3 linked regions of the Homo sapiens genome follow. The protein of the gene in region 3 interacts with the protein of the main gene of each other region in a biochemical or structural test. Each region holds a gene or a part of one and is shown on either strand. Other genes may lie near its edges.

Evidence for each region. Proteins that work in one complex are often made in the same cells at the same time.
Region 1: the proteins of ASF1B (region 3) and CHAF1A form a complex in vitro, tested with the Homo sapiens proteins (one study listed by BioGRID).
Region 2: the proteins of ASF1B (region 3) and CDAN1 form a complex in vitro, tested with the Homo sapiens proteins (one study listed by BioGRID).

Annotation. Positions count from the first base shown.
Region 1 is NC_000019.10:4,426,640-4,430,139, reverse strand, and holds part of CHAF1A (chromatin assembly factor 1 subunit A), read right to left. Parts: intron 1,477-3,500; coding exon 1,250-1,476; intron 703-1,249; coding exon 534-702; intron 433-533; coding exon 352-432; intron 1-351. UniProt on the Homo sapiens protein: Acts as a component of the histone chaperone complex chromatin assembly factor 1 (CAF-1), which assembles histone octamers onto DNA during replication and repair.
Region 2 is NC_000015.10:42,727,129-42,730,628, forward strand, and holds part of CDAN1 (codanin-1), read right to left. Parts: coding exon 3,470-3,500; intron 3,088-3,469; coding exon 3,000-3,087; intron 2,758-2,999; coding exon 2,668-2,757; intron 2,495-2,667; coding exon 2,440-2,494; intron 2,235-2,439; coding exon 2,101-2,234; intron 1,999-2,100; coding exon 1,895-1,998; intron 1,683-1,894; coding exon 1,524-1,682; intron 1,140-1,523; coding exon 1,076-1,139; intron 906-1,075; coding exon 827-905; intron 642-826; coding exon 493-641; intron 1-492. UniProt on the Homo sapiens protein: May act as a negative regulator of ASF1 in chromatin assembly.
Region 3 is NC_000019.10:14,130,090-14,133,589, reverse strand, and holds part of ASF1B (histone chaperone ASF1B), read left to right. Parts: intron 1-3,500. UniProt on the Homo sapiens protein: Histone chaperone that facilitates histone deposition and histone exchange and removal during nucleosome assembly and disassembly. Cooperates with chromatin assembly factor 1 (CAF-1) to promote replication-dependent chromatin assembly.

The sequences.
Region 1 (3,500 bases), 9.7 Mb from region 3:
ACACGGTGAGCATCGGCAGAAAGCCCACTAGGTCACAGCAGCTGGGCAGTCAGGAGGAAATGGTGTGCAGCAGGCCCGCAGGAGGCAAGAGGGGGCTGTGGGGCCACGGTGCAGATGCGGACGGGATCCCATCCCCAGCAGCCACGTGGGCGAGTGTCACCAGATGAGATTTTTCGAGAGAAGCTGGAAGTCTGGATGTTGAGGTGCGTTCAGGTTTCAGACCACACAGCAGGTCAAACACCAGCTGTCAGTGAGTGAACACAGCTGGGCTGCATCCTTAGCCCCTCACTGTGGGACAGAGACTCAAACACAAGCCGTCTGTGAGTGAAGACAGCTGGGGCACATCCTTACCCCCTCACTGTGGGACAGGGACTCCCCAGGCTCCTCTTCTTCCCACTCCTCATCACTGTCCACCTCATAGTCCAGGAGCTTCTGAGAAAAGAAACACATGGGACTCACAACTGTCTTTGGGGCTGGAGGAAAGGGGCACAGTGAGGAGGTACGGGGACGGAGGCACTCTGGGGCTAGCTCACCGTGTCCTGGGCCCAGGGGTCTCGCGCGCGGATGAGTGCCGTCTTCTTATTCCAGGTACCCCAGTAGGCAGGCCGGTGGTTCTCACAGAACTGCAGGAGCTTCATCCTGCCAAACTTCCTCCTCTCGGGAACACCGTCGCCCTTCCCACGCTCCACGATGACGACATCACTGAGAAGGAAAACCCCAGGCTCAGGATCACGCTGCCTTACAGACCTGCTCACAAACCTCCCAGGAACCTCCCTGTGAAGCTGGCCTAACAATTCTAGAAAGATGGGCATTTGTTAAAAAGCAGCACTGCCTGTCCCCAAAGAAAGGTCAGGAACATGGACTGAAGGGACAGATGGAGGAGGGTGCAGCCTGCAGGGTGAGAGGGAGGACAGCTGCCCAGGTGCAGCCCCAGAGCATTTTTAGCAAGGGAGGTTCTGTGGAATGAGATTTGCAAGAGCGAGGTGTTGGGGGGTATCCTTCACTGGAGACCAGCAGGGAAATAAGATTCCTCCACGAGGAGCTGGGAAGACAGGGAGAGGAAGACTTCAGGAGCTTACAGGAAGGCCAGGTGGAGAGAGGCCTGAGCCAGCACCGAAGCCCAGGGCCCGAGGGCACTAGGAAGCAAGCAACAGAAGGACCCAGAGCTCCCACCCCGGGGACCCCAGGGTTCAGGATGCTGGCCTCCAGCATCACTAGTGGGTGAAGGCCGACCTCCTCAGGCTCTGACCTGTTAAAAATATCTGCATTCCGGGTGGAAACGTGCGTGGGTCCGGACCTCAGGGGCTGCCGGCCTTTGAGGTCTTTCAAGAAGGAGAACTCGCCGCTCTGCTGCTGGAGGAGCTGGTCCAGCTGACTGCAGAGGTCTGGATGGAAAGCGGTCCGACGCCGAGGGGCCAGGACCATGTGCTCTTTAATTTCAAAGGGGGCAAACTTCCCACAGGAGCCGGCCAGGGTCTGAAATCAAGAAGAGACCCGATGGGGTCTTCGAGCAATGGGAGAAAGGAGGCACCATGGACGCACACAGCAGGGTGCTGGTGGGATTCATCCAGGCTAAGGCCAAGGCACAGACTCAAAAGCCCAGGCACTGTGTGGGTCCACAGAGCCGAGTTTCCAGAGCTACAGGGCAGAGGGCAGATTGGCAGTCTCAAGGGCCGGCGGTGGGGGGACAGACTACAAGGGAGCTGTTTTGAGTGATGGAAATAGGGTTTATCTTCATTATGGTTAGCTGGCCCTGTCATTTGTCAACACAAATGTCCTGAAAAGAGTTTATTTTATTGGATGTAAATTATATCTCAACAAACCTCACTTAAAAAAAAAAAAAAAAAAGGCCGGGGGCAGTGGCTCATGCCTGTAATCCCACCACTTTGGGAGGCTGAGGAGGGCGGATCACCTGAGGTCAGGAGTTCGAGACCAGCCTGCCCAACATGGTGAAACCCCATCTCTACTAAAAACAAAAATTAGGCCAGGGGCAGTGGCTCATGCCTGTAATCCCACCATTTTGGGAGGCGGAGGAAGGCGGATCACCTGAGGTCAGGAGTTCGAGACCAGCCTGCCCAACATGGTGAAACCCCATCTCTACTAAAAACAAAAATTAGGCCAGGGGCAGTGGCTCATGCCTGTAATCCCACCACTTTGGGAGGCTGAGGAGGGCGGATCACCTGAGGTCAGGAGTTCGAGACCAGCCTGGCCAAGATGGTGAAACCCCGTCTCTACTAAAAATACAAAAATTAGGCCAGGCGCGGTGGCTCACGCCTGTAATTGTAGCGCTTTGGGAGGCCGAGGCGGGTGGATTGTCTGAGCTCAGGAGTTCGAGACCAGCCTGGGCAACACAGTGAAACCCGGTCTCTACTAAAATACAAAAAATTAGCCGGGCACGGTGGCATGCACCTGTAGTCCCAGCTACTTGGGAGCCTGAGGCAGGAGAATTGCTTGAACCTGGGAGGCAGAGGTTGCAGTGAGCTGAGATCGTGCCACTGCACTCCAGCCTGGGGGATAGAGCAAGACTCCATCTCAAAAACAAAACAAAACAAAACAAAAATTAGCTTGGCATGGTGGTGGGCACCTGTAGTCCCAGCTACTCAGGAGGCTGAGGCGGGAGAATCGTTTGGATCTGGGAGGCAGAGGTTGCAGTGAGCCCAGATCACGCCACTGTACTCTAGCCTGGGCCTGAGGCAGGAGAATTGCTTGAACCTGGGAGGCAGAGGTTGCAGTGAGCCGAGATCGTGCCACTGCACCACTCCAACCTGGGGGATAGAGCAAGACTCCATCTCAAAAACAAAACAAAACAAAACAAAACAAAAATTAGCTTGGCATGGTGGTGGGCACCTGTAGTCCCAGCTACTCAGGAGGCTGAGGCAGGAGAATCGTTTGGATCTGGGAGGCAGAGGTTGCAGTGAGCCCAGATCACGCCACTGTACTCTAGCCTGGGCAACAGAGCAAGACTCCTTCTCAAAAAAAAAAAAAAAAAAAAAAAAAAAAAAAGACAGGGTCTTTTTTTGAAAGATCACAACTCCTCTTTTTTTTTTCTGAGATGGAGTCTCGCTTCATTGCGCAGCCTGGAGTACAGTGGTGCAATCTCGGCTCACTGCAACCTCTGCCTCCTGGGTTGGGCGATTCTCCTGCCTCAGCCTCATGAGCAGCTGGGATTACAGACGCCTACCACCACGCCCGGCTAATTTTTGTATTTTTAGTATTTTTAGTAGAGACACCTTGTTGGCCAGGCTGGTCTCAAGCTCCTGACCTCAGATGATTCACCCGCCTTGGCCTCCCCAAATGCTGAGATTACAGGCATAAGCCACCGCACCTGGCCAAAAGGAGAAATTTCAGTATAATGAAAGACACTGTAGCTGGGCGTGGTGGCTCACACCTGTAATCCCAGCACTTTGGGAGGCCGAGGTAGGCGGATCACCTGAGGTCAGTAGTTCAAGACAAGCCTGACCAACATGGAAAAACCCCGTCTCTACTAAAAATACAAAATT
Region 2 (3,500 bases), on a different chromosome or scaffold from region 3:
CTGGCTCGCTTCAGTCCATGGGCTGTTTCTTGACTCCTGCTCTAGAGAGTCTTTGAGTTTTAAAATAAAGTTAGGAGAACTGATGGTTTATTCTTACTGCCTGTAACTAAACAAGCATCACCTCCCACATAGAACATTTCTGAAATTGTCTCCAAATACTGGGGCGACTGCCTCCTAGAGACTCATTTGCTATCAAGCCATTCACCACCGCACTCTCATCACCATCTGCATAATAAGCATTTAGTCAAAAATGTCCTAGCTGCCCTTTTCCCCTTTTGGATGATTAAAAAGTCAGAGTGACAATTAGGAAAACCATTCAATTCAGCTCTGCCCTACCTAACCCCCATTCAGTAATGAGTGAAACGGGGACTAGCTGGACAGCACAGACAGCTTCTACATAAAAATCCTGGAGCTGATGTGAGAAAGGAAAAACCAGGAACAGAGCAGGGGGGTGGGAGCAGGGAAGCCAAAGGGAGTAGGGTAGCCGTGTACTTTTATCTCGGAGATGAGGTGGGAGGGGAGGGGAGCATGGTGCTCACAGGCGCGGGAGCAGCCCCTCCGCTCCCCCCGGGCAGCAGGTTCAGGACCCTGGGCTCGAAGTGTGCGACTCACTGCTGCTTTCACCTCCCTCCTGATCAGTGCTGTGGGGCAGAGGGAGAATGGGAAAGGAATCACGGGAGGGCCCTGCACAGGTTCACCATGCTAACCCATGCCTTTTGCTGTTTCCTACTGGCTCTCAGTCCCATCGCCCACAAGATGCCTCTGACTCTCTGCCAGTCCACTTTTTAAACACTTGATTCAGCCACTCCCCCATCCAGGACCTTACCTGTGATGTTGGCTGACAGCCAAGCACAGGCTTTCTCTGTTGCAAGCCCCACAGCAATGTTCTCTGCACTGCTCAGAACCTGCGAAACAGAACTACAGAGTCAGGGGCTAGGGGAGGGCTGGGTGCAACAAAGGATGCCAGAGTCGAGCACTGACCCCGCCCCCACACACCCTCCCGCAGCCTCAGACTACTCCGTGCACCTCCCCACAACTGCCTGGCCTGCTAGCTGCAGGCCTCCCTCACACGTACGGCTGCCGGGGTCTCCTCTGGAAGCAGCGCCCGCACAGCCCCAGGGCTCTTCCTTTGACAGAACCTAAAAGGGGACAGATGGGGTCAGTGATCTCTGGGTATTTCAGCCTGGCTGCAGAAGTAAATGCCCCGAGTGCACCAAGCCCCTGACCTGGGAGGCTGTACCTTGGAAGGAGGCACCGTTTGCCCTCCCGCCCCACCCCAGGTGCCAGAGAAAAGACAAGCCCAACTGCCAGCCCCACAGCATCACACACGCTCCCAAACCTAGGTTTGGCTTTTGTGCCACAGAAGGCCTACAGCCAGTGCAGGGCTTATAGAGAATGGGCGCAGGGAGAAGAAAAAAGGAGGCATGAAGAGAAGAAAGGGAAAAAAGAGTAAGTGTGAAGGAGGAAAGAAAGGACAGAGAAAGCCAAGAGGAGAGTGGATCAAATGGACCAGCGCTGCTTACTCCCGCCCCAGGGCCAATGCCTGGGCCCCGTGAGGGCACAGCTGGGAACACAAGATCTCCAACAGCTGGGCTGGGTCTCCCCCTTCCTCTCCCTGTGTCACCAGCTGCTCTTGGAGAAGTGACTCTGCCTGGCGCACCAGATCTGCCACCAGTGTAGCCCTGCAGCAGGGACAGCAAGGTTGGGGATGGTTGGAGGGTTAATCGGAAAGAGGCTGAAAATTTATGGGAATTTGGTCAGAAATTTGCTTCAAAATGTGTCAGCCATTTCAGCCCCACACCCACCCTCTGGCTGACCTTCTCAGTTTAGCAACTGAGGAAAAAGGGGAAAAAATGGTAGGGCGATGAGACCAGGATCCTTAACCCACTCTTACTTGATATGTTTGACACAGTTTGATCCAATTCTTTCTGCCACGAACTCTACGGTCCGGCGCAAGGAGGGCGGCTGGTTGTGGAAAAAGGCCTGGGCGAGCTGTGCCTGGGGGGAGGAGGGAGAGGCAGCAAGGCTTCCTCCAGCCTCCCTGTCCCCGCCCCCAACCCCCCCTCATTTTCCCCACGGCTGTCTCCGCCCTGCCCTTACCTGCAGCCCCTGGCTGGTCTGGGAAGGCTGGGCTCCCAGGCTGGTGGTAGTGGTGGGGGTGATTTTCCTCATGAAGCCCCCACTCCGTCCACTACTGCCTGACACCCACGAAGCGAGCAGTTTCCGGAGCTCTCCTGTATCAGTGAAGTCCAAGTTCTCAGTTCCAGAACCCTCTCCCCTCCCTAAGTATCATGGACTTTACTTGTGGAGTCAAGAGGCTCAGATACCCAGGAATGACTATGAACGGAGCAATATCCAAGGGAGCTGGGCCAAGGGGGTGCCTTTTGGGTACTCATGGAGGGACAGACCAAGGACCGTCCAGGGAAGACCGGTGCTCACCGATGTAGGGGCAGCAGGTGTAGAGCAGCTGCTGGTCCACCACAGGCGCATTGTCCTGGGGAGAAAAGGTTGGTGTCAGCAGACTGCCCCTCCCCCAGCGCACCCAGAAAGCAGGCAGTTGGCAGGGCCTTTACAAGGGTTACATCTGCCCCTGGCTGGGCCTCCCCAGGCAGCCCACTTCCTTTATTCCTGAGTTTCCCATGGCTCTGGCGGAACCCCAGCACTCACCAAGCCATGCTCTGGGGCTACTGTGTCCACCTCAAAGGCATATGAGGGACCCTCTTCCAGAAAGAACAAGTCCTCAGGGACTGTGGGAATCTGGCAAGACAGTCACAATTCAGGTCAACTTCAGAGACCCCCACCCAACCCACCCCACCTCCTGCACGGTCCCAGGGTGTAGGCGCCAGCTTCAAAGCAGCCACCTCTGAGATGATGGGAATCCCCAGGCCTTTCCTGAACCTTCGTCTTCCAGCCCTTGCCTCATTCGCACTCAGACATTTGCCCACTCCCCATCTTCAGCTGTAGAACCTCTCTCCAATCTGGACCCTCACTCTGCCCACCTGGAAAAGCCAGCCCAGGACAGCAAGTAGCAGCAGCTTGTTCAGGAAACACATCTTCCCCTCACTCTCCTGCGACAACACCAAGCTCCTGAAACATCAATGGGCAGTACACGGGTTTGAGCAGAAAGGGGAAGGGAATGGAGGCAAACGCCATCAGTGGAAACTGGCTTGCAAAAGCAGAACTAAAAGGGACTGGGGCCATGTTGGCAAGCAGGATCCCCCCAGCCCCGCCTCCTGCATGGGGACTGTCTCTCAGCGGGGCCACCTCAGGAACAGCATGAGGCCAATGAAAGTGCAGATGATTTCCCACTGTACCTCAGGGGAGCCAATCGTGCCTCTCCCAGGGCTCAGTTATGGCCAGGGCCCCACACGCACAGTGCAGACTGCTCGACCCTCTTTATTAATAGCAGGCTTGACCAATGTCCCGAGTCCCGAATCCTTTCATCAAGCCTCAGCCTTGTTCCACTCACCGGTGCAGGCGCAGCAGGAGAGTGAAGATGT
Region 3 (3,500 bases):
TTCAAGCGATTCTCCTGCCTCAGCCTCCCGAGCAGCTGGGATTACAGGTGCCTGCTATGACGCCTGGCTAATTTTTGTATTTTTAGTAGAGACGGGGTTTCACCATCTTGGCCAGGCTGGTCTTGAACTCCTGACCTCAGGTGATCCGCCCGCCTCAGCCTCCCAAAGTGCTGGGATTACAGGCGTGAGCCACTGCGTCCAGCCTCTGCTGATCATTTTTTAATAGAAATGGAGTGACTTCACCAGAGTCACACAGCCAGTTTGTAGAAGTATTGGCACTGAAGTTTTGAATCTAAATTCTTTATCTTTGCTCCAATCCAGGGAAAGAAAGGAAGGATTCCCTGTTTCAGGGGTGGAGCATAGATAGGAATGACCACAGAATTTATTGCCTAATCAGGACACTCAAAATGCAGTGAAGGGAAGTGCTATTATTATTATTTATTTATTTATTTATTTATTTATTTATTTTTGAGATGGAGTCTCGCTGTGTCACCCAGGCTGGAGTGCAGTGGCGTGATCATGGCTCATTGCAAGCTCCGCCTCCCGGGTTCACGCCATTCTCCTGCCTCAATCTCCCAAGTAGCTGGGACTACAGGCGCCCGAAACCATGCCCAGCTAACTTTTTGGATTTTTAGTAGAGACGGGGTTTCACTGTGTTACCCAGGATGGTCTCGATTTCCTGACCTTGTGATCCGCCCGCCTCGGCCTGGGATTACAGGCGTGAGCCACCGTGCCCGTCGTATGATTATGATGATGATGATGATTATTATTAGAAATGGAATCTCACTATGTCACCCAGGCTACAGTGCAGTGGTGCAATCTCAGCTCACTGCAATCTCCACCTCTCGAGTTCAAGCGATTCTCCGGCCTCAGTATCCCAAGTAGTTGGGATTACAAGCTTGAGCCACCATGCCCGGCTAATTTTTGTGTCTTTAGTAGAGACGAGGTTTCACCATGTTGGCCAGGCTGGTCTCAAACCTGATCGCAAGTGATATGCCCACTTCAGCCTCCCAAAGTGCTGGGATTACACTTTGAATCCTAAGCGCCTGGCCAGAGAATGCTATTGTTAATTGTACCTGGATGATAAAGCTTTTCCTTTGAGTAACTCAAGTGAGAAATCCTGGCTCTTCCAGTCCTAGGGCTCTCTGTGACTGATCTGCCAGCTTGCTTTCTGCCTCCTTCTGGACTCCTCTCCATGAAAAAGGGAGAATCTGCCTCACTCTCAGCAGCGTCAACTGAAAATCTGACAAAACCCCCAACCCAGCTGTGTGAGGTGGCTCATGCCTGTAATTCCAGCACTTTGGGAGGCTAAGGAAGGAGGATCTCTTGAGCCCAGGAATTTGGGCCAGCCTGGGTAACATAGCAAAACCTTGTCTCTACAGAAACATCAAAAAATTAACGGGACTTGGTGGCACGTGTCTGTGGTCCCAGCTACTCAGGAGGCTGAAGTGGGAGGATTGCATGAGCCCAGGAGGTCAGGGCTGCAGTGAGCCATGATTGCACCACTGCACTCCAACCTGGGTGAGAGAGCAAGACCCCCATCTCAAAAAAAAAAAAAAAAAAAACCACCCTAACCCCTAAGCCCCAGTTGGGTGACCCCTATTTCTCAGGGGCCCCAAGCCCCCTTTGCACTTTTATCTTCCACATCTGGAAATAGATTCTTCCACATTTAGCTGAGAAATTCAACAGACACTGGTTGAATAAGTCATAGAAGCCAGATGTTCTGACCCAGAAATAACGAAGTTGTTATGGCAGCAGAGCTCATCTTTGATTATGAACAAAGGCAAAAAGCAAACAAACAAAGGAGGCCTGGCATGGTGGCTCACGCCTGTAATCCCAGCACTTTGGGAGACCAAGGCGGGCAGATTACCTGAGGTCAGAAGTTCGAGACCAGCCTGGCCAACATGGTGAAACCCCGTCTCTACTAAAAATACAAAAAATTAGCCGGGTGTGGTGGCGGGCGCCTGTAGTCCCAGCTACTCGGGAGGCTGAGGCAGGAGAATGGCGTGAACCCAGGAGGCAGAGCTTGCAGCGAGCCGAGATTGCACCACTGCACCCCAACCTGGGCAACAAAGCAAGACTCCATCTCAAAAAAAAAAAAAAAGAAAAAGCCAGGTGTGGTGGCTCACACCTGTAATCCCAGCACTTTGGGAGGCCGAGGCGGATGGATCACAAGGTCAGGAGTTCGAGACCAGCCTAACCGACGTGGTGAAACCCCGGCTCTACTAAATACAAAAATTAGCCAGGCATGGTGGCACGCAGCTATAATCCCAGCTACTCAGGAGGCTGAGGCAGAAGAATCGCTAGAACCCGGGAGGCAGAGGTTGCAGTGAGCTGAGATTGTGCCACTGCACTCCAACCTGGGTGACAGAGCGAGACTCTGTTTCAAAAAAAAAAAAAGAAAAAAAAAATGGCCAGGCACAGTGGCTTACCCCTGTAATCCCAGCATTTTGGGAGACCAAGGCAGGTGGATCATCTGAGGTCAGGAGTTTGAGACCAGCCTGGCCAATGTGGTGAAACCCTGTCTCTACTAAAAATACAAAAGTTAGCCAGGCTTGGTGGCAGGTGCCTGTAGTCCCAGCTATTTGGGAGGCTGAGGCAGGAGAAGCGCTTGAACCCGGGAGATGGAAATTGCAGTGAGCCCAGATTGCGCCATTGCACTCCAGCCTGGGCGACAGAGCAAGACTGTCTCAAAAAAACAACAACAAAAAAGCAGGAAGCAGACTTTTTAGCTAGTTCAGCTATACTAATTGTGTACATGTCTTTAGTCTTATCATTTATATATATATATATATATATATACACACAAACACACAGTGGAGGTATGTCTTGCACAGGGACTAGCTTGTGAAGTTAGCGCAGAGAGATAACATGGGACACAGTTGAGTTGCCTTGACATTGCTCAGAAGGTTAGGTACACACGTCATGTGTACAGCTGTGTCCTGTACTCATAGCTATGAGTTCCTGCTGTATTGGTGATTTGTGTCCCATGTATAATTCTAAAGAAAGATTATATTTAGAGATGAAATCATACACGTATGTCTCTACTTATAACACTGCAGCCAGATTTTTTTTTTTTTTTTTAAAGAGATAGGGTGTCACTATGTTGCCCAGACTGGACTTGAACTCCTGGGCTTAAGCAGTCCTCCCACCTCAGCTTCCTAAGTAGCTGGAACCACAGGTGCACATCACCATGCCTGGGCACTTCAGCAAATTTAAGATGATTCTCGACTGGGCATAGTGGCTCATGCCTGTAATCCCAGCACTTTGGGAGGCCAAGGCAGGCGGATCACAAGGTCAGGAGATCGAGACCATCTTGGCTAACACAGTGAAACCCCGTCTCTACTAAAAATAGAAAAAAAAATTAGCCGGGCGTGGTGGGGGGTGCCTGTAGTCCCAGCTGATTAGGAGGCTGAGGCACAAGAATGGCATGAACCCGGGAGGCGGAGCTTGCAGTGAGCCGAGATCGTGCCACTGCACTCTAGTCTGGGCAACAGAGT